Regions from separate parts of the Homo sapiens genome. Here regions 2, 3, 4, 5 and 6 are each reported to be linked to region 1. The links are microRNA targets in miRTarBase. Many come from high-throughput screens and were not tested one by one. Region 1 holds a microRNA gene; each other region holds the end of a gene's coding sequence.
Evidence for each region. Region 1 holds the annotated microRNA hsa-miR-548ba (AAAGGUAACUGUGAUUUUUGCU, at 1,413-1,434, opposite strand). A microRNA usually pairs through its seed, bases 2 to 8, with sites in the 3' UTR of a target mRNA and lowers its output. Matches are read on the target gene's strand: a 7mer-m8 pairs with bases 2 to 8, a 7mer-A1 pairs with bases 2 to 7 and ends in A, and an 8mer does both.

Region 2: the mRNA of PEX2 is a reported target of hsa-miR-548ba. Seed matches in the 3' UTR shown: 7mer-m8 at 2,902-2,908.
Region 3: miRTarBase lists TOMM5 as a target of hsa-miR-548ba. Seed matches in the 3' UTR shown: 7mer-m8 at 1,156-1,162.
Region 4: the mRNA of FTH1 is a reported target of hsa-miR-548ba. Seed matches in the 3' UTR shown: 7mer-m8 at 4,345-4,351.
Region 5: the mRNA of ARID5B is a reported target of hsa-miR-548ba. Seed matches in the 3' UTR shown: 8mer at 1,916-1,923 and 7mer-m8 at 2,977-2,983.
Region 6: the mRNA of FBXW7 is a reported target of hsa-miR-548ba. The part of its 3' UTR that is shown has no 7-base or 8-base seed match.

The regions. Positions count from the first base shown.
Region 1 is chr2:49,055,946-49,061,036 of GRCh38, reverse strand. It overlaps MIR548BA (microRNA 548ba), which reads right to left and starts at 1,434; the gene lies at 1,379-1,434. All of the region lies in intron 2 of FSHR (follicle stimulating hormone receptor), which reads left to right.
Region 2 is chr8:76,979,043-76,984,133 of GRCh38, forward strand. It overlaps PEX2 (peroxisomal biogenesis factor 2), which reads right to left. Exons shown (of 4, transcript NM_000318.3): 4 at 1,216-5,091. The coding sequence ends at 4,219. Among named protein-coding and RNA genes, the nearest start is that of MIR3149, 15 kb to the left of the region's middle.
Region 3 is chr9:37,584,619-37,589,709 of GRCh38, reverse strand. It overlaps TOMM5 (translocase of outer mitochondrial membrane 5), which reads left to right. Exons shown (of 2, transcript NM_001001790.3): 2 at 778-1,297. The coding sequence ends at 812. Among named protein-coding and RNA genes, the nearest start is that of TOMM5, 5.4 kb to the left of the region's middle.
Region 4 is chr11:61,960,299-61,965,298 of GRCh38, forward strand. FTH1 (ferritin heavy chain 1) reads right to left here. Exons shown (of 4, transcript NM_002032.3): 3 at 4,689-4,814; 4 at 3,987-4,593. The coding sequence ends at 4,429. It overlaps BEST1 (bestrophin 1), which reads left to right. Exons shown (of 11, transcript NM_004183.4): 10 at 1,957-2,595; 11 at 3,806-4,163. The coding sequence ends at 3,824. Among named protein-coding and RNA genes, the nearest start is that of FTH1, 4.8 kb to the right of the region's middle.
Region 5 is chr10:62,092,109-62,097,199 of GRCh38, forward strand. ARID5B (AT-rich interaction domain 5B) reads left to right here. Exons shown (of 10, transcript NM_032199.3): 10 at 1-4,836. The coding sequence ends at 922. Among named protein-coding and RNA genes, the nearest start is that of LINC02621, 160 kb to the right of the region's middle.
Region 6 is chr4:152,318,259-152,323,349 of GRCh38, reverse strand. FBXW7 (F-box and WD repeat domain containing 7) reads left to right here. Exons shown (of 14, transcript NM_001349798.2): 14 at 201-2,806. The coding sequence ends at 469. Among named protein-coding and RNA genes, the nearest start is that of FBXW7-AS1, 17 kb to the left of the region's middle.

The DNA of each region.
Region 1 (5,091 bases):
TAATCTGGAGGTATGGGCAGGGGGAGAAAGGTATGGATGCAATTTGAGAACCTGAGCCAAATATACCCAGTGGCATCTCCCAGGAGATGAGGCACTTTGCAGTAGTGACCATAGACCCTGGAATGGTGGGGCTTAGCAGCATTCTAGACTCTTTACAGCCATGTGTAGCAACAGCAAGTATCCCAGAATGGCAAAGCACAGCTCTAGTTTGGGCCGGGGGGGAGTGGGTACATGGATGACTGCACTCCCCAGGGAGAGAGGTATCTCAGAAGCCCAGAATAGGGAACTAGTCCGGCTCCAGGGAAGCAAGGTACTAGAGGTATTTGGCATATAGGGTGGAGTATTTCAGTTCAGCCACTTCTCTCTTGCCTGGGCGGCAGGATACTATAACAGCTCAGCCTTGGAATATGCAGCTGTTCAGCTTGGCCAGGGCATTGACTTCCCAGGGGCAATGTGCCACTTCAGCTCAGGCCTGTGGGATGTGACTGTTCTAGGCAGCCCAAGCCCCATTTCCCTGGAATGCAGAGTGTCACATCAGCTTAGGTACTGGGGTGTGTGACCACCCTGGCTGGTCAAGGCATCATTTCCTGGGATGCAGGGCACAGTTTCAACTTAGGCACTGGAGAGGCATGACTTCTCTGAGTGGTCAAGGTAATGTTTTCCCAGGATACTGAGTTTTTGTTTTTGTTTTTTTTTCCTTTTGCTAATACCTAATGGGATCATATGGTAGTTGTATTTGCAGTGTTTTGAATAACCTTTTTATACTGTTTTCCATAGTGGCTTTACTGTTTATAGTCCCACGAACAATATGTAAGGGTACCTTTTTCTCTGCATCCTCACCGGTATTTTTTTCGTTTAATAACCATCCCAAATGGTGTGAGATGATACCTCATTATGGTTTGATTTGCATTTCTCTGATGATTAGTGATGTGGAGCATTTTTCCATATATGTGTTGGCCATTTATATGTCTTCTTTTCAGAAATATCTGTTCAGATCACTTGCTTATATTTTAATCAAATTTTTTTGGTATTTTTTTGTTTGAGTTTCTTATATATTCTGGATATTAATGCCCTGTCAAATGAGTACTTGGCAAACATATTCTCCCATTCTGTGGTTGTCTTTTCACTATATTGATTGTTTCATTGGCTCTGCAGCTTTTTGGTTTGATATAATCCCCTTTATTTTTGATTTTGTTTCCTGTGCTTTTGATGTCTTATTCATGAAATCTTTTCCGAAACCAAAGTCCTCAAGCACTTCCTCCATGTTTTCTTCTTGCAGTTTTATCATTTTTGGACGTATATTTAGGAATTTGATCCATGTTGAGTTGATTTTTGTATAGAATGAGAGGTGAAAGGGGGCATCTGTTAGGTTGATATAAAAGTAATTGCAGTTTTTGCCATTACTTTCTAATAGCAAAAATCACAGTTACCTTTGCACCAGCCTAATAGTATCAGTCTTCTACATGTGGATATCCAGTTTTCCCAGCATCATTTATGAAACCGTCCTTTCTCCAGTGAATGTTCTTGGCACCTTTGTCAAAAATCAGTTGGCTATAGATACGTGCATTAATTTACGGATTCTCTATTCTGTTCCATTGGTCTATTTGTCTGTTTTTTTTTTCCCCCAGTACCATGCTGTTTTGGTTACTATAACTTTGTATTATATTTTGAAGTCTGGTAGTTTGATGCTGCCAACTTTGTTCTTTTTTGATTAGGCTTACTTTGGCCATGCAGGATGTTTTGTGGTTCCGTACAAATTTAAATTTTTTTTTCTACTTCTGTGAATGACGGCATTGTTGTTGGCTGTTTTATTTTATTATTATTTTTTTAATTTTTAGAGACAAGGTCTTAGTCAGGCAGGAGTGTGATCATGGCTCAGTTATGGCTCACTGCAGCCTCAAACTCCTGGGCTCAAGTAATCTTCCTACCTTAGCCTCCCAAGTAGCTAGTACTACAGGCATGTGCCACCATACTCAGCTATTTTTTTATTTTCTTGCATAGATGGGGATTATGTTGCCCAGGCTGCTCTTGAACTCCTGGACTCAAGGGATCATTCTGCCCCAATCACCCAAAGTGCTGGAGTTACAAGTGTGGGCCACTGTGCCTAGAACTGCATTGGTATTTTGATAGTAATTGCATTGAATCTTTAGATTGCTTTAGTTAGTAAGGTCATTTTAACAATACTGATTATTCACATCCATGAGCTTGGGATGTTTTTCCATTGGTTTGTATCCTTTTCAATTTACCTCATTAGTGTTTTGTGGTTTTCCCTGTAGAGGCCTTTTTCCACTTGAGTTAAATTTATTCATAGGGTTTTGTTTTGTTTTGTAGTTTTTGTAAATGGAATGGGCTTCTTTATTTTTTTTTCAGGTAGTTTATTGCTAGTGGATAGAAATGCTACTGATTTTTGTTGGTTGATTTTGTATCTTTCAACTTTACTGAATTTGTTTAACAGTTCTTAAAGGTTTTTTTTAGGTGGGGAGGAGGGTGTTGAAACAGAGTCTTGCTCTGTCACCAAGCTGGAGTGCAGTGGCTCGATCTCTGCTCACTGCAACCTCTGCCTCCCGGTTCCAGCGATTCCCCTGCCTCAGCCTCCCAAGTAGCTGGGACTACAGGCATGCACCACCATGCCTGGCTAATTTTTTGTATTTTAGTAGAGACAGGGTTTCACCATGTTGGCCAGGATGTTCTCAATCTCCTGACCTCGTGATCCACCTGCCTCAGCCTCCCAATGTGCTGGGATTACAGGCATGAGCCACTGCACCTGGCCAGTTTTTCCATGTATAATATGTCATTTAAAAACAGGGACAATTTGACTTCCTCTTTTCAAATTTGGATGCCCTTCATTTCTTCCTCTTGCCCAATTGCTCTTGTTTGAACTTTCAATACTATGTTACATAAGAGTGGTGATGGTGGGAATTATTGTAACATTCCAGTTGTTAGAGAAAAAGCTTTCAGCTTTTCCTCAATCCACATGATATTAGCTGAAGGTATGTCATATATGGCCTTTATTGAGTTGCGGTACTTTCCTTCTATACCTAATTTATTGAGAGTTTTTATCATGAAAGCATGTTGAATTTTACCAAATGCTTTTTCTATATTGACATGGTCATATGAATTTTGTCCTTCATTCTGTTGCTTTAATGTATCATGTTTACTAATTTGCATATGTTAAAACATTCTTGCATTTCTCAGATAAATCCCACTTAATTCTCATATATTATTTCTTTGATGTCTTATTGGTTTTGGATTGCTAGTATTTTATTATGGATTCTGCAACTATCTTCATCAGGGATATTGGCCTACGTTTTCTTTTTTTTGCTATGTCCTTGTCTGGTATCTGAGCAATGCTGGCCTATGAGAATGAGTTAGAAAGAGTTCCTTCTGCTTCAATTTTCAGAATCATTTGAGAAGAATTGGTATTAATTATTTTTCAAAGGTTCTGTAGAATTCAGCAGTGAAGCCATCTGGTCCTGGGCTTTTCTTTGTTGGGAGATTTTCAATTACCTGTTCAAACTTGTCACTTATTATTGGTCTATTCAGATTTTCTATTTATTCTTGGTTCAATCTTGGTGGGTTGTATTTGTCTAGGACTTTATCCAGGTTTTCAAATTTATTGGTGTATACTTGTTCATAGCAATCTTTAATGATCCTTTGTATTTTTTTAGTAAACATTGTAATGTTACTACTACTGCTACTGTCATTGTGTATGTTTTTCATTTCTGATTTTATTTATTTGGTTATTCTCCCATTTTTTCTTAGTCTAGCTAATGGTTTGTTCATTTGGCTTATCATTTCAGAAAAGCAACTTTTTATTTCATTGATCTCTTGTGTTATTATTTTAGTGTTAATTTCATTTATTTCTGCTCTGATATTTATTATTTTTGTCTTCTACTAATTTTTGGTTTGGTTTGTTCTTCCTTTTTTAGTTCCTTGAGTTGCAGTGTTAATTGGTTTATTTGAGGCTGGGAAATCTTTCTTGTTTTTTCATATAGGGGTTTACTGATATAAACTTGCCTCTTAATTCTGCTTTTGCTCATCCCATAGGTTTTGGTATTTTGTGTTTTCATTTTCATTTAAGAAAGATTTAAATTTTATTCTTAATTTCCTCTTTACCCATTGATTATTCAGAAATGTGCTGTTTAATTTCCATGTAGTGTATGCTTTCAAATGTTTCTCTTGTTATTGATTTCTAGGTTTATTCCATTATGGTATTATAGGGTACTTGACATAATTTTGATATTTTTAAAATTTTTTTGAGACTTGTTTATTGTCCTAACAGAAACAATATGGCCAATTCTGAAAAGTATTTCATTTGCTGATGATGAGAATTTGTATCCTGCAGCTGGTGGATGAAATGTTCTGTAAGTGTCTGTTTGGTCTGTGGTGCAGTTTAAATCCAATGTTTCTTTGTTGATTTTCACTCTAAACAATCTGTCTAATGCTGAGAGTAGGGTGTTGAAGTCTCCAACTACTAATGTATTGCGGTCTATCTCTCCCTTTAGGTCTAATAATATTTGCTTTTTATATCTGTGTGCTCTGGTGTTGGATATATATATATATATATATATATATATATATATATATATATTCCAATTGTAATGATTTCTTGCTGAATTGATCCCTTTATTATTTTATAATGTTAATTTGTGTCTCTTTTTACATCTTTTAACTTAAGTCTGTTTTTCTGATGTAAGTATAGCTATTCCTGCTCACTTTAGGGTTTTGTTTATAAGGATTATCTTTTTTCAATCCTTTCAATTTCAGTCTATGTGTCTTTACAGGTAAAGTAAGTTTCTTGTAGGCAGCATATATTTGGGTCTTTTAAAAAAATCTATTTCACCAGTCTATATGTTTTAAATGGGAAATTTAATCTATTTACATTCAAGATTATTATTAATAGGTGAGGACTTACTCTTGCAATTAATTGTTATCTGCTTGTTTTGTATATCCTTTGTTTCTTACTTCCTCTCTTATTTTTAATTATTGCAATTAGGTGGTTTTCTGTAGTGATAGGCTTGATTCCTTTCTCTTTGTCCTTTGTGTATCAAGTCTAACAGTGAGTTTTAGAGTTTTGCATGTTGTCATGAT
Region 2 (5,091 bases), not on the chromosome of region 1:
CAAACTTGATTTGAGAGCAAGTGCAAGGGAGAGAAAAGAAAAATGTTAAGTGTAAATGTTTTTATTTTCCTAAGGAAGAACACTTGTAACTGATGGTTACATACTTGAGGCTAACATGGAAACATATCATGTAGCTAAATCCCATCCAGTTTTCCTAAAGCTTGAGCCTGGAGCCTGCTGGGGAGTAGAAACAGTCGCACCAGAGGTATAGCAACTCTTCTGGCAGTGCCCAGAGAGGCAGAGACTGAATGGAGTTCCTGGGGGCTGTCATAGCAACTTGGCCAAGAAGTCTGGTATTTGTAGTGGGGCAGAGATACTCAAGAGACACTTGGGTGTGTCAGTCATAAATCTATTGTTTATAAACGAACACTACCTGGCATTAGTGTGTTGTTTGTCCAGTGTACTATATGCAAGAAAAACAAAAAAAAAGGAAACCAGAAAGGAAAAAATGGACAGTATTAGATGTGGTACACACCAAGATATGCCACCTGGCTCCTCCTGCAAGGATGTACATGGTGCCCAGCTGTGGAATGTGGTCAGTGGACTGCCTCCAGCTGTTGGCTCCCACAGGATCTGCTTCCGCTACAGAGCTGCCATGCTTGAGATCACAACCTTCCCAGAGCTGCCCACACCCAGTGACTGACAGAAGTGTAGGTAAAAAGGCCTATTTACTTTGGCCTAATTTAGGACATTCTGACAGATGACACTAGCTCAGAGCTCCCCTCTGGGCTGGCCAACTTTTTTCAGGCCTGCTTTAGAGTACTCTCATTTCTTCTGCCTATTCCTGCTTTGCTCTTTCCCTTCACAGGCATGGATCCCTGAGAGTTATACATAAAAATCTCTTGTACTTCAAACCCCTTTCAACGCCAGCTTCTGCAGAACCCTATCTGCGACCTTAGGTTTATTCAGCTAATAAAATGTTTCTATTGCTACACTAGAACTAAAAGGCTCTGGCTATCTAGTGATGAACAAAATAGTCATGGTCTCTGAACTCATGGGGGTTATCACCTAGTAGGGGTGGCAGATGTTAAATAAAAATGAAAAATAATAAAAACCTATTTTTACTAAGTGCCATTAGGGTCTGTGGAAAAAAACCACCCCCTACCCCAATACTGACAAGTCTATCAGCTGGCATATATGTAAAGTACTGTTTTCTTAAGATTTTGAGAATATGGATAACTACTTAGAAGTTACTCTATCAAAATAATACAATTGTTGATATAACAATTTTGTTGACTTTATTTAATCCTTTCAAATCTGCAATGTTAAAGAATCATCCAGTTACTTATGAATGTCCTTATCAAGCTAGATCACTGGTAAAATGAGACTGCAATGTGGACTTTTGAAATGAGTAAGGCAAATGTAGACTCTAACTAGTAGAGATCTGCCAGCATCCACCCTTCTAAGAACACCTCAGTTTCCTGTGGTGAACGGCCTCCTCCAGGACTCCTTTAGGTTCATGTGGTATATGGGAGGAGCATCACCTACATTTAAGTAACCAGGAACAGTATTTTCCATCCCCTAGCTATAGTGGCTGGTTCAGGAATGTGCACATAATCCAAGGCAGACCAGTAACAGTGAGCTCCTGGACTTTAGCTGTAACTATTAGGCAAGAGTATCTCATGCCAGTGGGATCAGAAAGCTAGCAGATTATAAGCCTTGAGCTTCTAGCGGCCATCATTCTGTGTGAGAATGAAACCGACTCAGAGTAATACTGACAACAGCAAAGGAAAGCACTACTATTATATTCTATTTACTATGTGTCAGGCATTGTTTTAAGAGCTTTATATACACTAAACATGTAATCCTTACAATGAACAGATGTGCAGAGATGTGGCACATTGCCCTAGGTTATACACAAGTGGGATTTGAATTCTAGCGGAATCTGTGTCCCTCATGCCATGTACACTCATCAAAAAAATGAGAGCCAAAGGATAAAGCCTGTCTCAAAGAGAACCATCTGAGCACCTACATCCAGACTGGGCCTGCAGTGTGCAGCTGGACTCTTCACTTAATGAACTCAGATTCAACATTGCATTATTCACAACAGAAAGTGAAAAGAACCTAAATGCTCTATGATGGTGGTTAAATAATAATAGGAATAGGAATATGATGGCATATACATAGCATTTTAAAAATATATTATGGCTGGGTGCAGTGGCTCATGCCTGTAATCCCACAACTTTGGGAGGCCAGGGTAGGAGGACTGCTTGAGCCCAGAAGTTCAAGACCAGCCTGGGCAACAAAGTGAGACCTCATCTCTACAAAAATTAGCCAGGCATGGTGGTATGGGCCTGTGGTCCCAGCAACTTGGGAGGCTCAGATGGGAGGATCGCTTGAGCCCTGGGAGGGAAAGGCTGCGGTTAGCCATGATCACACCACTGCACTCCAACCTGGGTGACTGGGTGAGGCCCTTTCTCACCAAAAACAAACAAACAAACAAAAAACAAAGACGTTTGTATATATTTTTATTTTTTTAGAAACGAACTCAAACTCCTGGGCTCAGCCTCCCTAAGTAGGGAGCCTGGGATTACAGGCATGAGCCATTGTGCTCAGCCCTAAAATAGTTTTGAAGAATATTTATACATAGGAAAAAATGCTATTTTTTATGCATTATAATAATTTTGTAAATAAGAAATGTACGTGCAACAAATCTACAAATATAGTAAAATATAGTGATGATCTCTCTCAAAAAATTGTGGGAAAGTTGATTTTATATTTTTTCCTGAATTGTTGGTGTTTTCTACAATAATGTTTTAAAATTACAGAAGGCAAAAGAAGGCAAATTCTTAAGATGTAAAATACTCTTAACTCAAACTACAAAACTTCTTCAGTATCTTACACTAAATTGAACCTAAATTAAACTTACAGTTCATTCAATCACAGAATGTAAACTCCATGAAGGTAACTTGATTTTTCCTGCTTAATATACTGTTGTGCCTCTAATGGCTACATCAGTACCTGGCACCTGAGTACTTGTTCAATGAAAGGTGAAGAGAAAAATGAACTGGCAGTGTATTTCCATCATACTAGCAAGATGTTTATTTAAAAACATTTAAAAACTGTTTTTTAAAAAACATTCTAGTTAAGACGAGATAATTCAATGTTCAAGCTAATAATTCTATACCATTTTAAGAGTCTGAATTTACTTTTAAGTAAAAAAAGGCAGAGAAAAAGAGTGAAGGATACAGAATTATCTTGATTATGCACTGCTGTTACTATTCCCATGCTAAAGACCCCTTTTGTTTCAATAAAACTATCAATATTTACTGAGAATGACAGCTCTGAATCAAAGGCAAGAGAAAGAGACCTGTAAATAGTGCTGTTCATACTAGTTGCCCCCAGTAGTTCCCAGGCCTCACTTCCAAGCTGCCTTAAGTAATTTTTACTTTCTGAATATAAAGCCAACTGTGGAGGGGTCAGACAGCTGAGGACTGAACTTCTTAAAAATTGGCTTCAGAGAAAAGCATAACATTACAACTGAGGCGGCCAAGCACAGTGGCTCACGTCTGTAATCTCAGCACTTTGGGAGGCTGACGCAGGTGGATCACCAGATCAGGAGATAGAGACCATCCTGGCTAACACAGTGAACCCCATCTCTACTAAAAATACAAAAATTACCCGGGCATGGTGGCATGCACCTGCAGTGCCAGCTACTCGGGAGGCTGAGGCAGGAGAATTGCTTGAACCCGGGAGGCGGACGTTGCAGTGAGCAGAGATCGCGCCACTGCACTCCAGCCTGGGTGACAGAGCAGGACACCGTCTCAGAAAAAAAAAAAAAAGTTACAACTGAGGCATCAGGTCTTAAGGTTTAAAACAGTCTCATAATTGTCACATTATCATATTATGTCAACTCTGAAAATAAATGCACACTCATCCCAGAGTCTCCAAAATCTTTATCTTTAGAATCCAACCTTGTTTTAAGAAGTAGTAAAATGAAGGAGCATTGTTAGTAGTCACCTGACAAAAGCTGTCCATTATTCTTGACATTAAAAATTGAATGCAATGATTTAAAAAACATAATACATTAACATTTACATAATATATTTAGAATCACATGGTTTCCAGTGATTAGATTTCAGTCATGCCTGGAAAGGAGAAGACAGTGGCTAGGAGCACATTCCTTATAAAGGATACATAAATGGTATACTTAGGATGACTAATATTAAGAATTTAAACACGGTGCATTTTTTTCCTCAAAGGAAGCAATTTTAGTTTCTAAAGAGCATTTACTTCTGACATCTCGATTCCTGATTTCAGTGGCTGCAGACTGTGTACTTCTGTGCCACACTTAGGACAAGTAAAGTACACGTCAAATAAGAAACTACTCTTAGCACAGAAATAACAGAAAATATGCTCACATCCTATGGTGTGAGGCATGGTGGGCCACTCTCCACATAGAGCGCATTCTTTGCCACTGGTGGCTAATGTATTGTCACTATTAGGTGCACCAGTAAGAGGAATACACCATGAAGACAGCTTGGCTTTCAACTTCTGGACATTGATAAGTGGTAAGAGAAAAATCAGAAATTCAGCAAAACCATGCCAGAGAAGTTCCCTATTCATGTATTCAAAGCCAACTTCACATATGTTTTGAGGCTTGCAAAATACAGAATGAATACCTAGGAGACGTTCTGTCAAAGTTGCAAACTTTCCCCTCTGAAGGAAAATCAAAAAATTAATCAGCCCACCTAATTTCAAAAGTCCAATCACAAAATTCACACACTGCTTGACTTTCCCAAATGATGCTAAATGATGGTTTCGAAACAAATCATAGCATCGTTCTTCTAACCACCTGCCACCAATTGTACAAACAGCATACCAGATTTTTTGATTTTTACTGGGTGGCTGATATCTCAGGTTAGGGGAAAAATCATTTTTGTACTTAATATTCAAAACTGACTGTCCCACTGTGGCATTTTTGGAGTAGATGGTGAATCTCCACAAGAAAACCCATAAGCACGCTTTCACCTCTGGCTCAAAGCGAGCTAACAGCCCAGGTTTAAATCCATGAAAGCACTGAGTAAACTGGGACCAAACTAGCTGCTCCAGGGCCTTGTTTAGTTCAAGTGCATCCAACTGGCTTATTCT
Region 3 (5,091 bases), not on the chromosome of region 1:
TCTTTTAAAAAAATACAAAAATTAGCCAGGCATAGTGGCATGTGCCTATAGTCCCAACTATTCAGGAGGCTGAAAAAAATAAATAAATAAAATAATGTTAACAAAATTCTATTAGTATGAGTATTGAGAAAGAAGGTGATTTGGGTAGCTTTTTTTTGGTCACAACACTTTTACACAGGACAGTAATATCACTTCTTTAGATCTATATGTCGACACTTAGTTTTCTAGACATTTCTATGTACATGATCTTATTAGACCCTCTTAATGACTGAGGTAGGACTGTATCAGATGTGATCTAGAGTATGTTAAGTGATATATAGCTAATCAGTAAGAGACCCAAAATAGGTGTCCAGCTCTTCCGGTTCTCTAGTTCAGTGTTTTCCCATATCCTCTGCCTTTCAAATGAGTTTTTAAAGGTGAAAAATGCCCATTTGTTTCCTCTAGAGTTTTGTTCCTTTTACAGTTAAAATAAATCGCTAGAGTAAAGCCTTGTCATTTGAAAGAGAATTGGATTTATACTTTATGGCCCTAAGGGGCAAACTATCTGGAGAAAAGGTTTTATGTAGTATAAGAATGAAATTTACAATAATAGCTGAATGACAGTGGAATGGGCTGCTTTGGAAGGCAACTAGTCCCTTTTGCTGGGCTGTACAGGCACATGCTTGACCATCACTTGGAGTTATTTTCAAAAACATGTTGAATAAACCTGATAATTCTATAATGTAGCCTATGGGCTAATAGATTTGAAAACTAATTTTAGATTTGTTTTTCTTTCAGCTCCATTTATCTTAAAGAAATTGGACAGCATATGAAGACAGGACATCACATATGAATGCACGATATGAAGAGCCTGGTTACAGTTTCGACTCCTCTCTGCAAGTGAATAGGCCCAGAAAGGTGTAAGAGACTCTTTGAATGGACATAAAATTCTGCTTGTTAAGAACAAGTTTGGCTCTGGTAACTGACCTTCAAAGCTAAAATATAAAACTATTTGGGAAGTATGAAACGATGTCTCGTGATCTGGTGTACCCTTATCCCTGTGACGTTTGGCCTCTGACAATACTGGTATAATTGTAAATAATGTCAAACTCCGTTTTCTAGCAAGTATTAAGGGAGCTGTGTCTGAAATGGCACTGTCTTGTCAGTCATTTCTGTTTACCTTTTTCTTCTGCCCAGAGTGTATTTGTGAAGAGTCTCTTATATTATGTTTTGTGGAAATCAGCACACAACCACAATGACATTTAAGCACAGGATCATTATTAGTCTATGTTTTTAATAAACATATCAATTAAGAAAAGTTGGGTTTCTATTTTTCTTATCCTACTTTTTGCTGCAAACCAACAATCACTAGTGAGACTTGTATTATATTGAGATTATTGCAAGCTTCAGTAAGTTCATCTTGTTTTGGACTAGAGAATTTGCCAATCCTGATGAAGTGTCATTGTGTTTTATTGCCAGGCAGTCTTAATGAAAGGTAGCATTACTGCTTGATGCTGAGTATATGAAATATTAATACTACCAAAGGAAAAAGTACTATATTTTTAAGCCAAATAGTTCTCCAAGTTTGTTGAGTGGAGGGGGGATAGTCCTTAACCTTCTCCCCAGGAGCAACTACATACACCTCTTTTTAGCTGATTTTATTGGTATTTACCTTTTGGTCTCTAAATAATGTGACGGTCGTGATTGGGATTTAGGTCTCTTTCCTGTCCTTAGCGCCATCACTCACACGTATCTTGTCATCTCTTCCTTCCAAAGGATAACGTAGTGTGATCTTGAGTAGATTAGTATCATTAGGATTCTGAGTATAGTACCTGGTTTTCTTTTGCTGTGTATCTTTTTGTTTTTTTCTAGGCTTGGTTTTTCTATGGAATTTCCACTAAATCAACTAAACTTTTTGCCATTTATCTAAATCATTCACAGCAATCAGCTTTATTAGGTACTCTGTTTCATTTTCCTGAGTAAGCGTTTCCTGGAGTCTTCTGACCCGCCCCTGACTGGACTGATAGCCTTCTATGCCTGATGTGTGTGGCTATATTCTGGGAACTCCCTTCTCTATGCCTGATATGTGACTGTATTCTGGGAACTCCCTTCACTATTGTCCGGGAATTCCTTTTCTTCTCTCTTATTATATCTCGTTTTCTGTTACCTAGTGTCTTGGTTTACTCCCTTGTTTGATGGAGCCTGTTTTCTCTGGCAGTGTCCTCCTGAGAAAGGTGGCATAGGAGGTGAATGACCTTGCTGGTCTAAAAATGTCTTTTTTTTTTTTTTTTTTTTTTTTTTTAACACGGAGTCTTGCTCTGTCAACTAGGCTAGAGTGCAGTGGCATGATCTTGGCTCACTGCAACCTCCACCTCCCAGTTCAAGCGATTTTCCTGCCTTAGCCTCCCAAGTAGCTGGGATTACAGGCACGTGCCACCACGCCTGGCTAATTTTTGTATTTTTAGTAGAGACAGGGTTTTGCCATGTTGGCCAGGCTGGTCTCGAACTCCTGACCTCAGGTAATCTGCCCACCTCAGCCTCCCAAAGTGCTGGGATTATAGGCATGAGCCACTGTGCCTGGCCTTAAAAATGTCTTTATTCTATAGTTTGATGAATATAGGGTTCTAGATTAGCAATCATTTTCCTTCAGAATTTTAAAGCAAAGCCTCTAGCTTTCAGTGTTGCTGCTGAGAAATCTGAAATCATTCTGATTCCTGATTTTTTTGTGGGACTAAGTATTTCTTCCTGAGAAACAAGGATCTTTGTTCCTAGTATGCTTATATTCCATGATGACATCATTTAGTGTGTGTTTATTTTAATACACTGTGGTGGGCACTTGGTGAACCTATTTAAACTTGAAACTTGTATCTTTATTTCTCAAATTTTGTAGGTTTTAAAATAATTTTATTATTTTTTATGGGTATGTAAGTGTATATATTTATGGGGTGCATGAGATATTTTGATACAGGCATACAGTACCTAATAATCACATCAGGATAACGGGATTATCTGTCACCTCATTTATAATTTATTTATGTTACAAACATTCCAGTTATACTTTTAGTTATTTTTAGATGTACAGTAAATTATTATTGACTGTAATCACCCATTATGCTATCAAATACTAGAACTTATTCATTACATCTAACTATATTTTTGTACCCATTAGCCATCCCTGCATTCCTTCCCTAACCTTTCCTAGCCTCTGGTAACCATCATTCTACTCTGTCTCCATGAGTTCAGTCGTATTAATTTGTAGCATCCACCAATGAATGCTTATAGGTTTTTATTGATTTCCTCCCCTTCTTTTTCCTTCTGCTCTCTTTTTAGAACAATAGTACTTTTAATGTTTTCTTTTTCCTTTATATTCTATTTTATCTGTAATTGCTTTTCTCTTTTTTTGTTTCATGTTAGATGCTTTCCTTGGTTGTCTGCTCACACTTAAAAATTGGGAACTAACATGGATTAAAGGCCTGGAGTGGAGCTTGTTGATGTTGAACTTTGCCAAAGGGCCATCTATTGGGCCATTTTTGTTGAGAAAACTTTTTGCGTCTGTATCTTTAGTTATTTCCCATTGAGCTGGTCATTGCTCAGAGAACAAAGACTCTTCCAATCTCCCAAGTGCTGAATGAGGCCCTGCCAACGTTCTGGGATTCAAAGGAATAGGGCTGTGGTGAGGCTCAGGACAGACAGGTGTGTGTGTGTGTGTTTCAATATCCAGTATGTATTTGCTCACTGCGTCTCTGTTTTGAGTATAGTACCTCTGCCCAAACTGCCTGGCATCCCATAATCTAGAGACCTTCTATTTTACCCTTTTCAGAAAATAAACTTTTTATTTTTTGGAGACAGAGTTTTGCTCCAGGCTGGAGTGCAGTGGACGATCTTGGCTCGCTGCAACCTCTGCCTCCCTGACTCAAACGGTTCTTGTGCCTTAGCCACCTGAGTAGCTGGGATTACAGGCGCACACCACCATGCCTGTCTAATTTTTGTAGTTTTAGTAGAGATGATGTTTCATCATGTTGGCCAGGCTGGTCTCGAACTGCTGGCCTCAGGTGATCCGCCCATCTCAGCTTCCCAAAGTGCTGAGATTACAGGTGTGAGCCACTGCACCTGGCCTAAAAAAAAAAACTATCATTTTGAGAGGGTACTGTGTAATGGAGGCTGTTTTGCTGCATAGAGTTGCAGAGAGCATCTGATTACTTAAACCTTGCACCAATTCTTATTTTAATGTCTACCCTTCTACCCCTTATTGCTAGAGGCACCTGAAGCCACTAGTTTCTGAGCCTTTTAGGGATTCCATGATATAAATTAGGTTGTGAGTTTTTGTTGTTGTTTGGGGGTTCTTGTGGGTTTTTTTCTTTTTCTACCGCTGGCTCAGAATTCAGTTTTTCAGAGTCTACTACATTATTTACTGTTGATCTACCTATTTTCCAGCTTCTAACGTTTTATTCCTGTTTCCTCTTTTCTTCCATCCTTTTAGGTTTATATCTTAAAACAAAAACCTTTACCGTCATTTAATGGGATTTTTGGGAGGGAGTGGAGGTAGGTATACGTGCTTCATCTACCATCTTAACCTGGAAAGCATGTATTTTAATTCTGTGGTTTTGTATTTATTTCTTAAATTAAGAAGGTGTAGTGTATGGCACTGTGGTCATATGAATACTGGCTCTAAAGACAGGCAGACTTGATTTTGAATGTTGGCTCCAATACTTACGAGATGGGTGATTTTCAGCAAGTGAGCTCCGAATCTCATTTTCTTTAACTATAAAATTAGGATAATAGAAACATCTCTCTACTTCAAAGTGTCGTAAGGATTAAGTGAAAAAATGCAAGTAGAGCAGCTGGCACAATTGCTTGACATTTGGTAAATGTTATTAATGGCTAGTCTTTGGTATAAGGCATTTAGAAGTGATTTGTGCTGGCATTCACAGCATAGACAGATCTCATTCCTATTTCCAGATGCTCTGAGATAGCATACTCATCCTCTAATTGTGTACAAACTTCAAACTTACCAAACACTTAAGTTCATTATCTAAAAATAGCCTTAACCAATCAATAATAATGCCATTTTACAGGTGGAGAGGTTGAGACTGCAAGTTTCAGTGGCCAATG
Region 4 (5,000 bases), not on the chromosome of region 1:
TGCTACTCGAAGGACAGCCTGTGATCAGTGATGCAGTGGAACGTTAGGACCTGGCTCTTGTCATCCAGAACTATGTTTTCTTTTCTTTTTGAGACAGTATCTCGCTCTGTCGCCCAGGTTGGAGCGCAGTGGCGTGATCTTGGCTCACTGCAACCTCCGCCTCCTGGGTTCAAGTGATTCTCCTGCTTCAGCCTCCCCAGTAGCTGGGATTACAGGTGCCCACAACCACAACTGGCTAATTTTTGTACTTTTAGTAGAGATGAGGTTTCACCATGTTGGCCAGGCTGGTCTCCAACTCCTGACCAGTAATCTGCCCGCTTTGGCCTCCCAAAATGCTGGAATTATAGGTGTCAAAACTATGTTTTCTGATAAGCTACGATGCTTGGATGGGAAGTGGAAGTGGGGTTCCCTGGGATGGGGGAGGGGCAGCAAAGTCCCAGCAGGCAGCCAGGCCATCACAGGTACCTCCTGAATTGACTTTGTCCTACCGAGTAAAGGGCTCAGGCCACCCACAGCAGCCAGACTTATCCCCACATGGTCCCACTTCCCTGATTCCATCTGAATCCCTCTTGAGCTGCAGTGGGCTGAAGGGCTATCCCAGCTGGTCCTTTCTCCCCAGGACAACAGAGTTGAAAGTGCCTTGGAGAGTGTTGGGCACATGTCAGGGTTCATACTCAAGGGTTTCTTCCACGGTATCCAGTGCTGTTCTCGCTTGTTCTTTTCTTTTTTTTTTTTTAAACGGAGTTTCACTCTTGTTGCCCAGAGCTGGAGTGCAGTGGCATAATCTCGGCTCACTGCAACCTCCGCCTCCCAGATTCAAGCAATTCTCCTGCCTCAGCCTCCTGAGTAGCTGGGATTATAGGTGCCAGCCACCAAGCCCGGCTAATTTTTGTATTTTTAGTAGAGACAGTTTCACCATGTTGGCCAGGCTGGTCTCGAACTCCTGACCTCAGGTGATCCACCCTCCTCAGCCTCCCAAAGTGCTGGGATTACATGTGTGAGCCACTGTGCCTGGCTGCTTGTTCTTTTAAGAACCAAATATCCTACTAGACTGCAATCGAGTTTAACTACAGTCTATAGATAGTGTGAGGAAGGGTTGGGAAGGTGATCAAATGAAGGCTGGAGGCTTGCTTAGGTCAGAAACATTTCTGGAGGATGACTTTGAGCCCTACATGGTCTGTACCCCAGCAGCTGAAGGTTGTTGAGGGGTGGGGAGGGCTGAAAACAGAACGATAAAGCATAGACCTTGTCTCCAAGGAATGCACAATTTATGGAGGGAGCTCAAACCCAAGCCTCAAACTCTGGATACAAGGTACAAAGTACTGGATGTCCAGAAAAGGGACAGAACATGGAACACAGTCATCTTTGTCTGCCTGGGAGGCGGCTTCCAGCTGGGTCTGGAGCTGAGCCATGGAACATGGGAAGAATCTGAACTTGGGCAAGGGCAGGCCATACTCTCTGGTAGATAAGCTTTCCCTTGCAGGGTAAAGGTCTGGGGCTCCCGGGATGCCTGTTGCTAGGAAGTCAAATTTCTCTTTGTGGATGTCACTCCCAGTTGGAACCACAAATTCCTGGCATTGCCCAGAGTCACTCATGGGCCTCATCTGAACCACTCATGCCAGGGCACCAGTGTTTCTGACTGCCTGGAGTGAGGGGTTTTACAGGGGAAGTGAATGATGAGGAGGCCTTTACACGCCAGGCGGGGTGGTTGCGGGGGTTGGATGTTAACTCTGGTCAAGAGGGAATCAACAAACAGTGAGGTGAGCTGGGCCTGGAGGGATCACCGGGAGGTACAGGACAGATCAGGAGAGAGGTGAGAGCTGGGGCATGGTGAGGAAGACGGTGTGGCCTTGGCTTGGGCCAACTGAGAGAGAGGAGCGGGGGTAAGGGAGAAGTAAGGCCAGGTGTTGGTCCTTTGTCCACTGGCTCAGCCCTGCATCTCCTGTTTCTTTCCAGCCTGAACAAAGAGGAGATGGAGTTCCAGCCCAATCAGGAGGACGAGGAGGATGCTCACGCTGGCATCATTGGCCGCTTCCTAGGCCTGCAGTCCCATGATCACCATCCTCCCAGGGCAAACTCAAGGACCAAACTACTGTGGCCCAAGAGGGAATCCCTTCTCCACGAGGGCCTGCCCAAAAACCACAAGGCAGCCAAACAGAACGTTAGGGGCCAGGAAGACAACAAGGCCTGGAAGCTTAAGGCTGTGGACGCCTTCAAGTCTGCCCCACTGTATCAGAGGCCAGGCTACTACAGTGCCCCACAGACGCCCCTCAGCCCCACTCCCATGTTCTTCCCCCTAGAACCATCAGCGCCGTCAAAGCTTCACAGTGTCACAGGCATAGACACCAAAGACAAAAGCTTAAAGACTGTGAGTTCTGGGGCCAAGAAAAGTTTTGAATTGCTCTCAGAGAGCGATGGGGCCTTGATGGAGCACCCAGAAGTATCTCAAGTGAGGAGGAAAACTGTGGAGTTTAACCTGACGGATATGCCAGAGATCCCCGAAAATCACCTCAAAGAACCTTTGGAACAATCACCAACCAACATACACACTACACTCAAAGATCACATGGATCCTTATTGGGCCTTGGAAAACAGGTCTGTCCTCCACCTGAACCAGGGGCACTGCATTGCCCTGTGCCCCACCCCAGCTTCCCTTGCTCTGAGCCTACCCTTCCTCCACAATTTCCTAGGGTTCCATCACTGCCAGAGCACACTGGACCTACGCCCAGCACTGGCTTGGGGTATATACTTGGCCACCTTCACAGGGATCCTAGGGAAGTGTTCGGGACCTTTTCTCACTTCACCCTGGTATCACCCGGAAGACTTCTTGGGACCAGGTGAAGGAAGATGAGGTTGTGCTGACCAGAATGCTGCTGGAGAACTGCCCCAGGGCTGACAGGCCAGGCTTAGCTGAGCAGATGTTATCACTGGCCCCAACTTACTTTGAGCAAGGGTGGCTGACCCAAAACCATGAGGTGGCAGTCAGCTGGATGACAGATGAACACTTCCCCCATAACTATTTAGGGTAGTACCCAAGCACTACAGGAAAGGGTGGCAGGAACTGCCTCACTCCTAGGAACTGGTAGATGGTGAGGTTGAGGGTGTCCAGCGCCCTTAGGTCATTTTCTCACTGCCTGGGAACCTCACCAAAATACTTCTTGCTTCCTTGGGGTCAGCCCAAAGCTGTCACAAAATCAGATATTTCCCTTTATTCCAGATTTCCTGGACACTTTCACCCAATTATAAACACCCCACTTCAGCCCCAATCACGTGGGAGGAAGTGTAACTTCCCTTTTCTGGATTCTCAAGCAGTTACTTTCACGGTCAGAACACGCAGCTATTATGATTGAAAACTTAAAAGGGCAACAATTTCAGTCTTGCTTCTAGGGCTAGACAGGAACTTGGCAAACATCTGTGGCCTGTTCAGCAAAGGATGTTAATATTTAAGAATCTTGTCTTGGGCTGGGTGTGGAGGCAAGTGGATCACAGGAGGTCAGGAGTTTGAGACCAACCTGGCCAACATGATGAAACCCCATCTCTACCAAAAAAAATACAAATCAGCTGGGCGTCGTGGTGTGCCTGTAGTCCCAACGCAGGAGGTTGAGGGGAGAATTGCTTGAACCCAGGAGGTGGTGGTTGCAGTGAGATTGAGCAACTGCAATCCAGCCTGGGCGACGGAGTGAGACTGTCTCAAAAAAAAAAAAAAAAGGATCGTCTCAACCTTTGCCCTCCTACTGCAACATTTTGGTATTTGAAATGAAGGGACCTTCCATACTTATGCTGTTAATACTTTCATTCTCACTAGGGATGAAGCACATTCCTAACCTGCTTCCTAATGGGGATGCTTCGCCAGCCAGGTCCTCACCTGTGTGTACACCAGCAGGACACTGATCCAGTCACAGCCATACAGCTGTCCACACTGAAGAACATGTCCTACAACAGCCTGAATCAAATGGTTAGCTTAATAGATAAAAATCCCAGACTACTTCAGCCTTTAATGCCTTTTATTCATAAAAACTGTGAAAGCTAGACTGAACCATTGGAAACATTTAACTCAGACTCTGGATTCAGAGTCGGGAACCCTTAGTTCTATCTGAATCCAAGACAGCCACACCTTAGTATACTGCCCAAACTAATGAGTTTAATAAATACAAATACTCGTTTCTTTTTGATTAGTGTGATTAGAACTGAACAACGGCACTTAAGGAATCTGGAAGATAGCCTGGATAGATTTCTGATTCATCCCAAGACCTCAAAGACAACACCTGGGTACCAAATTTCTTTATTTGAAGGAATGGTACAAATCAAAGAACTTAAGTGGATGTTTTGGTACAACTTATAGAAAAGGTAAAGGAAACCCCAACATGCATGCACTGCCTTGGTGACCAGGGAAGTCACCCCACGGCTATGGGGAAATTAGCCCGAGGCTTAGCTTTCATTATCACTGTCTCCCAGGGTGTGCTTGTCAAAGAGATATTCCGCCAAGCCAGATTCGGGCGCTCCCATCTTGCGCAAGTTGGTCACGTGGTCACCCAATTCTTTGATGGCTTTCACCTGCTCATTCAGGTAATGTGTCTCAATGAAGTCACACAACTGCAAAACAATGGGGAAGACAGTTAGTGGGCAGCTTTCCCAATCCCTAAGGCAAATGATTTCCTCCATTTATTTCCTGGGGTTCCAATACTCACATGGGGGTCATTTTTGTCAGTGGCCAGTTTGTGCAGTTCCAGTAGTGACTGATTCACATTTTTTTCCAAATGTAATGCACACTCCATTGCATTCAGCCCGCTCTCCCAGTCATCACAGTCTGGTTTCTGAATGAGAATAGGTTAATGCATCTCTACCAACTAACCTAGAAGTCAGCAAGCCCATCATCTCTAACCACCACGTTTTGGCAAAAGGGACATTACTATTTGCCTAATTTAGTTTAGATGGTAAGCCTAAAAAAGCACAAAAGGCAAAAGCCCAGTGTATCATCACTTTATAAGGGCAATTGCTAG
Region 5 (5,091 bases), not on the chromosome of region 1:
TTATCTCACGTCCCTGCACCTGCAAGACAAAAAGTCGGCGGCAGCAGAAGCCCCTACGGATGATCAGCCTACAGATCTGAGCCTTCCCAAGAACCCGCACAAACCTACCGGCAAGGTCCTGGGCCTGGCTCATTCCACCACAGGGCCCCAGGAGAGCAAAGGCATCTCCCAGTTCCAGGTCTTAGGCAGCCAGAGTCGAGACTGTCACCCCAAAGCCTGTCGGGTATCACCCATGACCATGTCAGGCCCTAAAAAATACCCTGAATCGCTTTCAAGATCAGGAAAACCTCACCATGTGAGACTGGAGAATTTCAGGAAGATGGAAGGCATGGTCCACCCAATCCTGCACCGGAAAATGAGCCCGCAGAACATTGGGGCGGCGCGGCCGATCAAGCGCAGCCTGGAGGATTTGGACCTTGTGATTGCAGGGAAAAAGGCCCGGGCAGTGTCTCCCTTAGACCCATCCAAGGAGGTCTCTGGGAAGGAGAAGGCCTCTGAGCAGGAGAGTGAAGGCAGCAAAGCAGCGCACGGTGGGCATTCCGGGGGCGGATCAGAAGGCCACAAGCTTCCCCTCTCCTCCCCTATCTTCCCAGGTCTGTATTCCGGGAGCCTGTGTAACTCGGGCCTCAACTCCAGGCTCCCGGCTGGGTATTCTCATTCTCTGCAGTACTTGAAAAACCAGACTGTGCTTTCTCCACTCATGCAGCCCCTGGCTTTCCACTCGCTTGTGATGCAAAGAGGAATTTTTACATCACCGACAAATTCTCAGCAGCTGTACAGACACTTGGCTGCGGCTACACCTGTAGGAAGTTCATATGGGGACCTTTTGCATAACAGCATTTACCCTTTAGCTGCTATAAATCCTCAAGCTGCCTTTCCATCTTCCCAGCTGTCATCCGTGCACCCCAGTACAAAACTGTAGGCTCAGCTCTGCCCAGCAGTCCAAAGCGGCATGGCCAACAGAGCTTCACTCCTTACCCAGGAGTGCTGGCTTATAGAGTTAGAAGTCAGTATTTCTTCTAATCTGAGGCTATGATCAGTCCCAGCTGTAGGGGCCCAGAGGGGAGGTGAACATGCCTGATTTTTGTGGGACAACTCTAGCCCACAAACTGACTGGCTGGTGAGTCTTGACTCCCTTCCAACACAGATGCCCAGGCACCTCCAGATCATTCACTTCGCACGTGGGCCTTGTGAAGGGATTTGTGAATATCCAGGAAGAACTTAGAGGACCCCATCTGAGTTCGGATGGTCAGGAAACAATCTGGGCAAAAAAGAGGCAGGCATTTCAAAGGAAGGGGCAAGGAAGACTGGCAAACAGATGGCAAGGGATGCCCCTCTTTTTCATAAAACTCTCCAAGGTTCAATCAATGCAATGTATAGTGAAACTTCAATAGATCTTTCATTTTGACACTATTAAACAATCCAGAGAAGTAAACACTGTTAAATTGACTGTATATATTTGCTTCTTAAAACTACCTGTATCACTGTTTGCTCACCTAATTTATATACAGGTAGTTCCATTTTCTCCCAGTTCCTTCTCGTCTTTTTTTTTTTTTTTTTTTTTTTTTTTATTAAATGGTATTGCTTTTGTTTGCAGGTCTTTTTGTTTTTGTTTTGTTTTTGAGGCTGACTGACTGTCCTAGTTGTTGTGTGTTTGTAATTTTTCCACATCTTATTTTGAGCAGCTTTGGGTGGTAAAGTTATTGTTTACAAATTGAAGCAACTGATTCTAGTGGAACAAATGAAAAAGAAACAGTCAAGCACACAATAGTGCAAAGAACGTTCCTTTGTAGATCCGCAACTTAAGGATTTTGTTCCTCATAAATGGCATAGTTGAAAGAGCTTATACACTGCTTACCCAGCCAAATGCTTTGCTTTGAAGTATTGGGTTCTGTGAAAATATTGAGCATTGTACTTACCTTATCTAGGCTGTGAAACTGTCCTACATACCAGAGAATCATAAAAACAAAAACCTCACTGGCAGCAAGCTGCCGAATAACAACAGAGTCTAGAGGACATATTTGTGGGCTGCACAGATATTTTAGGAATTTCAGAAATTAGAACAGGAGCCAAAATGATTTACATTGGCGTTGGCACTGATTCCTTTAAATGGTCTGGGAAAGGGGGTTGGGAAGAGGATGGAGCTCAACTGGCCAGAAGAGGAGCAGCTGCAGTCCTGATAGCTTCTCTAGCCTCGGTCTTTTGAGTGATAAGTAGTCATGTTGTTTTCATCCAGTTGGTTTCTTGTCATTCCCAAGAAGAATCTCCCAGGCCACATCTTTGGGGATAACTGACATACTGGATTAGCCTTTTCAAAAGAAAAGTCATCCTATTTGGTTTTATGGGGTGTGAGTTTTGTGTGTACACACACAGAAACATGTAAGGTGGTTTGGGTCATGTTTTTAACCACCTGGCAATACAGTCCACTTTCTGGTTTCTTTTATTGTGGGAAGTAAATGGTCAAGCTGCTCAGGCAGTGAAAAGATGTGGAGAATGTCCGTTGTCATTCTTGCCACTGTATTCCATTTGCTACCGAGATATAACATTAAGGTGGACACATTTTCTAACTGTATTAATTAAAAGTCAATGGATACAGAGAGTGGATTTTCTCCCCAAGTCCCATCCCTGCTGAAGACCGCTTGGATGAACTCCCCAACCCACTGTGCCCCTCCCGCAACACTACCAGTAGACTTTAGAACCATAGTTAACTAAGTCTTTTACCTCTGAGATACTTAATTCTGGGAAAATTGGTGACAATTTTCAACTTCTAAATAGGTAACTCGACTGCAAAATAATCAAAACTGATAACAATGAAACTGCGGCTCTTAAACAAAGCCATGCATGCCGTGCATTTGTATTGAAATGTCTCCATGATATGAAGCCAAATATTCAATGTAACATACTTAATATCCAAAGGTGGAAACAAAAGAATGTAGAGATCCAGTGTTAAGAGTTCCATTTGCTTCAATTAATTATTTACCTTCCTGTGGAATAATATATATATATATATTTAATAGAACCATAGATAGACTAGTAGAATTTAGATTATAAATGTGTGAGTGCAGATTATCCTGCTATTGCACAAGCTAGAGGGGGGAAAAATCTCAATTCCAGCTGGCAAGATGCTAGCCAGGACACATATAAGAAAGTTGCACTAGATTGAATGGTCACAGAATCGGAGGACATGGAAGAAAAAGGAAACTTCGGTGGTTCTGCAGCAGACATGGGCTAGGTCATATGTGGTTTCTATGAGTTCGTGTCTCAAAAAAAAAAGGAGGGGGGGCATCTGTCCCCGGTGGAGCTCACCTATTTGGAATATGGGGCATTTGTTTTTTCCACTGCAATGATTTCAGTCTGGTTTCATCATGTTGGAATTCGATCACACCATTTTCAAACAATGTTAACATAGTCCAGCTTTTGTTTTTCTCATCTCTTCTGAGAGGAGACTCACTGTTTCTGTCTGAGGAAGCTCATACCCTCGGCAAAACATCAGGACAAATAAAGAGAAATGGGGGTACGCATTCCCAACAGAAGCAGTGTGTTATTTGTTTTAAAACTCTGAACAGAGATCTTGGAAATCTTTCAAAAAGACCATTGAATTCTTCATTGGCTGAGAACGACGTTTTAAAATGTCTTAAATAAGGCTTTGTTTGCATTGTTTGAGTTCAAGGGGCCTTATTATTGAATGGAATTGCACAAGCCTTTCTTTGTGCAATCAAACCATTGTTATTGGTAGTTCTGTAAAGGAAACTGTGGAATCGAATTGGCAGTGGAGTCATAAATCTATTTACTGAGTGTGGCTTCCAAGAAATGTTGCAATTCAAAATGCACTAAGTCTGTGATTTATTGGAGATTTGGAGATTCTAAATAATATTTTTAAAAAACTTCCATGCAACTTCTGGTTTAATGTTTGGCAACTCCACATGATAAAAAAATAAAAACAGCCCAACCGAGTTTCGGAATTAAGTATTCTTCTAGTAAGTGATTCAAACTTGTAATATTTGCCACAGGACTGACTTATTTATTTACTAGCTAGAAGCTCTTAAGTTCACTTGTTTATCAGGGCATATACAGAAGGGTTTGTTAAAACTCGATGTTAACTTTACAACTTTCTGACCTGGTGCATGAATTCTCAAGTACTGTATTTCACTGTGTTGGTGTGTCTGATGGAAATTTCGAGGTGGTCCCACAAAAATATTTTATGTAGTGTGCCTTCAAAGAGAACCATTTATTTCTCTTCACTTATCGTCCCACAAAGTCACATTTGGTGGTGGTCAGCCAAGTCGCATCTGGTCTAGTTTTACTCTTGTCCCAATTTTAAAGAGAAATGGGAATGAGTTTGCCCTGGTGAGACCCATACCATTGCAATGATTATCTTGAGCACTTAAAGTCCAGTGTTGGCTGTTAGTGTATTTGATATTCTGCCTGTCTCCTCATGGTTGAAATATGTCTGAAGAATAGCAGCATAATCTCTTGGCTGTTTATACTTTTTTAAACTTTCCTGTGTTGTAAATATTGTATACTTTTGGTGATTCCAGCTATGTAACCTCTATGCTCTGTAAGGTGATTATTTGTATATAGCAACATGGCCCAGTGATATTATATAGTTTCCCAATGGAGAGGTTATTGAGTAACCTTTGCATTAGTTTAAACACTACCAGAAGAATGCTGAGCCAACTATAAACACTCAATTTTGTATGTTTTCCAAATTGTACTTATTACTGCTTTTGATACTGTATTACGTGCCAATAGTTTCCCAATCACATAGCAGGCAAGAGATATTTTGTACTTTTTGATCCACTGTAATATTTAATAAAAAATGTTACTATCTGTTTCCTTTTGGGTGTGAGTAATCTGTCACTCTTCCTGAGGAGCCTGTGGCCTCCCCAGAAGACTTTCCACCCCATCTGTCCAAATTGAATGATAACAGTAATGATGGCAATGTCTGTAATTCACTAAGGACCTAGTGGGTGCCCATTTGGCAAATACCTCTTATCTTCACAACCTTATGTAAATATGGTTATACCTATTTTACTTATGAGAAAACTAAAGCTTAGAGAGGTAAATCAACTGGTCCAAGATCACCCAACA
Region 6 (5,091 bases), not on the chromosome of region 1:
TGTTTCAGTTACAAATCACTACCAGATTTTCTTACATCCATGCTGATCCTAAAATACTGAGGACATGGGTTTCTAAATATGTATCATTTCAAATGTTGCATTTATTGTATGTTCTAAAGTAGAAGTCTACAAATTATAATGTAACTAACTCATAGCCATTATTTCTAACCAGTAATTAAATTCTTTTGGTTTTTGTCTAGGTCCCAACAAGCATCAGAGTGCTGTGACCTGTTTACAGTTCAACAAGAACTTTGTAATTACCAGCTCAGATGATGGAACTGTAAAACTATGGGACTTGAAAACGGGTGAATTTATTCGAAACCTAGTCACATTGGAGAGTGGGGGGAGTGGGGGAGTTGTGTGGCGGATCAGAGCCTCAAACACAAAGCTGGTGTGTGCAGTTGGGAGTCGGAATGGGACTGAAGAAACCAAGCTGCTGGTGCTGGACTTTGATGTGGACATGAAGTGAAGAGCAGAAAAGATGAATTTGTCCAATTGTGTAGACGATATACTCCCTGCCCTTCCCCCTGCAAAAAGAAAAAAAGAAAAGAAAAAGAAAAAAATCCCTTGTTCTCAGTGGTGCAGGATGTTGGCTTGGGGCAACAGATTGAAAAGACCTACAGACTAAGAAGGAAAAGAAGAAGAGATGACAAACCATAACTGACAAGAGAGGCGTCTGCTGTCTCATCACATAAAAGGCTTCACTTTTGACTGAGGGCAGCTTTGCAAAATGAGACTTTCTAAATCAAACCAGGTGCAATTATTTCTTTATTTTCTTCTCCAGTGGTCATTGGGCAGTGTTAATGCTGAAACATCATTACAGATTCTGCTAGCCTGTTCTTTTACCACTGACAGCTAGACACCTAGAAAGGAACTGCAATAATATCAAAACAAGTACTGGTTGACTTTCTAATTAGAGAGCATCTGCAACAAAAAGTCATTTTTCTGGAGTGGAAAAGCTTAAAAAAATTACTGTGAATTGTTTTTGTACAGTTATCATGAAAAGCTTTTTTTTTTTTTTTTTTGCCAACCATTGCCAATGTCAATCAATCACAGTATTAGCCTCTGTTAATCTATTTACTGTTGCTTCCATATACATTCTTCAATGCATATGTTGCTCAAAGGTGGCAAGTTGTCCTGGGTTCTGTGAGTCCTGAGATGGATTTAATTCTTGATGCTGGTGCTAGAAGTAGGTCTTCAAATATGGGATTGTTGTCCCAACCCTGTACTGTACTCCCAGTGGCCAAACTTATTTATGCTGCTAAATGAAAGAAAGAAAAAAGCAAATTATTTTTTTTTATTTTTTTTCTGCTGTGACGTTTTAGTCCCAGACTGAATTCCAAATTTGCTCTAGTTTGGTTATGGAAAAAAGACTTTTTGCCACTGAAACTTGAGCCATCTGTGCCTCTAAGAGGCTGAGAATGGAAGAGTTTCAGATAATAAAGAGTGAAGTTTGCCTGCAAGTAAAGAATTGAGAGTGTGTGCAAAGCTTATTTTCTTTTATCTGGGCAAAAATTAAAACACATTCCTTGGAACAGAGCTATTACTTGCCTGTTCTGTGGAGAAACTTTTCTTTTTGAGGGCTGTGGTGAATGGATGAACGTACATCGTAAAACTGACAAAATATTTTAAAAATATATAAAACACAAAATTAAAATAAAGTTGCTGGTCAGTCTTAGTGTTTTACAGTATTTGGGAAAACAACTGTTACAGTTTTATTGCTCTGAGTAACTGACAAAGCAGAAACTATTCAGTTTTTGTAGTAAAGGCGTCACATGCAAACAAACAAAATGAATGAAACAGTCAAATGGTTTGCCTCATTCTCCAAGAGCCACAACTCAAGCTGAACTGTGAAAGTGGTTTAACACTGTATCCTAGGCGATCTTTTTTCCTCCTTCTGTTTATTTTTTTGTTTGTTTTATTTATAGTCTGATTTAAAACAATCAGATTCAAGTTGGTTAATTTTAGTTATGTAACAACCTGACATGATGGAGGAAAACAACCTTTAAAGGGATTGTGTCTATGGTTTGATTCACTTAGAAATTTTATTTTCTTATAACTTAAGTGCAATAAAATGTGTTTTTTCATGTTAGTATGCCTGTTTCTTCCACTGAAGTAATAATCCTTCATTATAAGTATTTAGGATTTGTCTATAATATTTAAATAAGCAAAATCTTGGTTTCTTTGCATCCTGCTGTGTGACATAGAAATCAATACTTCAAGCCTGTTTTATACCGCGAAAGTAAGGATAATGTGCTGCAACTGCAAATTTTATTTCTCTCCTAGACTATGAAGGAGGACACTCCACTGTGCTCATCTCTGTAGATTGCATTGGGGTGTATAAATATGAAATCTGGTTCCCTCAAAGAATCCACAAAACTTTTGTGATAATTACAACTAGAAGCCTTATAAATAACAAATTCATTTTGAAATTTTGACCACATATTAAGTGCTTACCCTCGATACTTTCTGTTCATTCTCTCTTAAGCTCCCACTATCCCTGAGAAGTAGGCACTATTATCTCCCATCTTAAAGACGAGCAAAAATCTGCAGCTGAGACTGGTTAGGCAATTTGTCAAATCATAGAACTAGCGGAATGCCAGAACTCAAACCCATATTTCCAAAGACTAAATACATGCTGCTCTTTAAGAAAGTTTGACAGACTAAAGCAAGGTTTGAGAGGGAAATAAGCCATTTTTCTGGTACTTTCTGACTGTTCTGTAGCCGTTTTGTTCAACAAATCTAAATTTTATAAAATCTAAATTTTATGATGTAAGGGGAAAAAATAAAGTTGTTTTTGAAACTAGTTCTAAATATATTTAGTATCTCAAATAGCAGGAGATATATATATATATATATATATATACACACACATATATATATACACACATCCAGTAATCTCAACTAACCAGGCCGTAGATGAAAATATAAAAGCTACTGAAAATGGACTCCCCTTTTTCTCATAGTCATAAAGTATGTGTTCTTTACTCATAGGGCAAATCCTGGGCCTCATTCTCCCAAAGCTACTAAATCAGAACACCTGGGAGTGTGACCCAAGAACCTGCATTTAAACTAGCTCACCAGGTGAGTTGTGGATACTAAAGTTTCAGAACCATTGCTTTAGATACCATTCCTGTACATTTGGTTATTTGGTTTATTAGTCCACAGCAAATTACAGACACAAAAATAGCAAGGAAAAGTGACAGGGTAAAGGAAAAAAACAAAAAACTACCTGGTTGAATGCAAGGCAAAAATCCTACTAGGCCGTGAAGTGCAGGGTCTTTAGAGTAAACCACGTTACTGCCCAAACCGTGACTACTGTTCACATTGATGACTGTGAATTGTCAAGAAAAAGTTGTAATTCTATTTGATAGTTCTTGAAACTGCTTGATTTTTCATAAGAGCATATAAATGAGGCTTAACTAGAATATAATTGAAGAGAAACATCCATTTTTAGAACTTTAGAGAATAGAATGAGTTCACAGGCTTTGCAGACAAATAGCCCTGAATTCATCTCAGTTCTAGTATGGTCTAGTTACTGGGACCTTTATCATGTTTCTTGACCTCGTGTTTCCTCATTTAAGATGTAGAGGATACCCATCTCCTAAGGTTATTATAAAGATTAGGTGAAACGTAAAGCACATTGCATACCGATGGCATTTAGAGCTCAGTAAATGGTAGCTTCTATTAAAAATTTTAAGTAAATAGACCCAGATAACTTTCTATATTAGAGAATTGAATGTATTTGTTACTCAGATTATGTAATAAAAATAGCATACACATACACACGTGTGCACACACACACACAGCAGTCCATTCTTTTACGTGGAGCCATCTAGATTCTCATTTGAGTTTTACAGAAACCTTGTGAGACAGACTGATATTGAGCACCTAACAGTGGTTTTGTATATACAGTCATCCTTCAGTATTTGGGCGGGATTGGTTTTAGGATCTCCCCAACCTCACCCCCATGGATATCAAAATTCATGGATGCTCAAGTCACTGATATAAAATGGCATAGTATTTGCATGTAACATATACAAGCCCTCCCGTATGCTTTAAATCATACCTAGATTACTTATAATACCTAAGACAATGTAAATGCTATGTAAATAGTTATTATACTGTATTGTTTAGGGAATCATGACAAGGGAAAAAGTCTGTACATGTTCGATACAGACATAGCCACCCTTTTCAAATATTTTTGATTCTCGTTTGGTTAGATCTGTGGATGCAGAACCCACAAATAATGGAGGGATGACTGTGTTTAGGTGTTCATTAAACATCATTTTATGAATAAATGAATAATCTTTATTACAATAAATCTTTGCTTGAAGGGAAAATGTTAGCATCCTTCTACAGGAATCAAAGTATAATTGTTGTAAAAAGGTCACTAAGAAAACTCCATTTTGTGGCCTTTTTAATGAAAAACTTTACCACCTCATGTAACTGTACATTTTAAAATCTTCATAACAGATATAGGCACACTTCATATTTAGATGTTACAAGTTCCCAAATATCAAACATTGCCTGAAACTAAGGCTGAAATTAGGACACAAAAGTAACCCATAAAAGCCAGTAGCAGGTACTTAGTATACTTGTTGAACTGAGCAGAGTTGATTATCTCATTATTTTATATTAGAATTGTTTATAATTTTGACACTTTGAAACCCCCTTATTGAGATTCAATTACCACAGCTATTTCATTAGGTTGCAAAAGCTAATGCCTACCAAATGGTAAGTAAATGTTTCAACCAGCCTTGTTTCATTTCAGAAAAGTAATTGACATTTAGTTATTTGTATTAACTGCTTTAAGCCATTTTCTCTACCAGCTTTGAGCTAGTCTGTTGTAAACTCTTCCATTTCCCTGAATTGATTAGAGGCTACAAAAGACCTCTTTGCTTTTCTCTTCCCTAAAGTGAAATGGGGATCAAGGGCAGCTTCCCCAGACCCAGCTGAGCCCTGGTTTTCTGTACACTTCTCCCTGAGATACACGTTGCACACTGTGAAACAAAGGTACGGAGGTGAAGGAGAGAAGACATCTCAGAGGCGCCTACTCACCACTGTCCTTGCCCCTGTAACTCCCTCTAT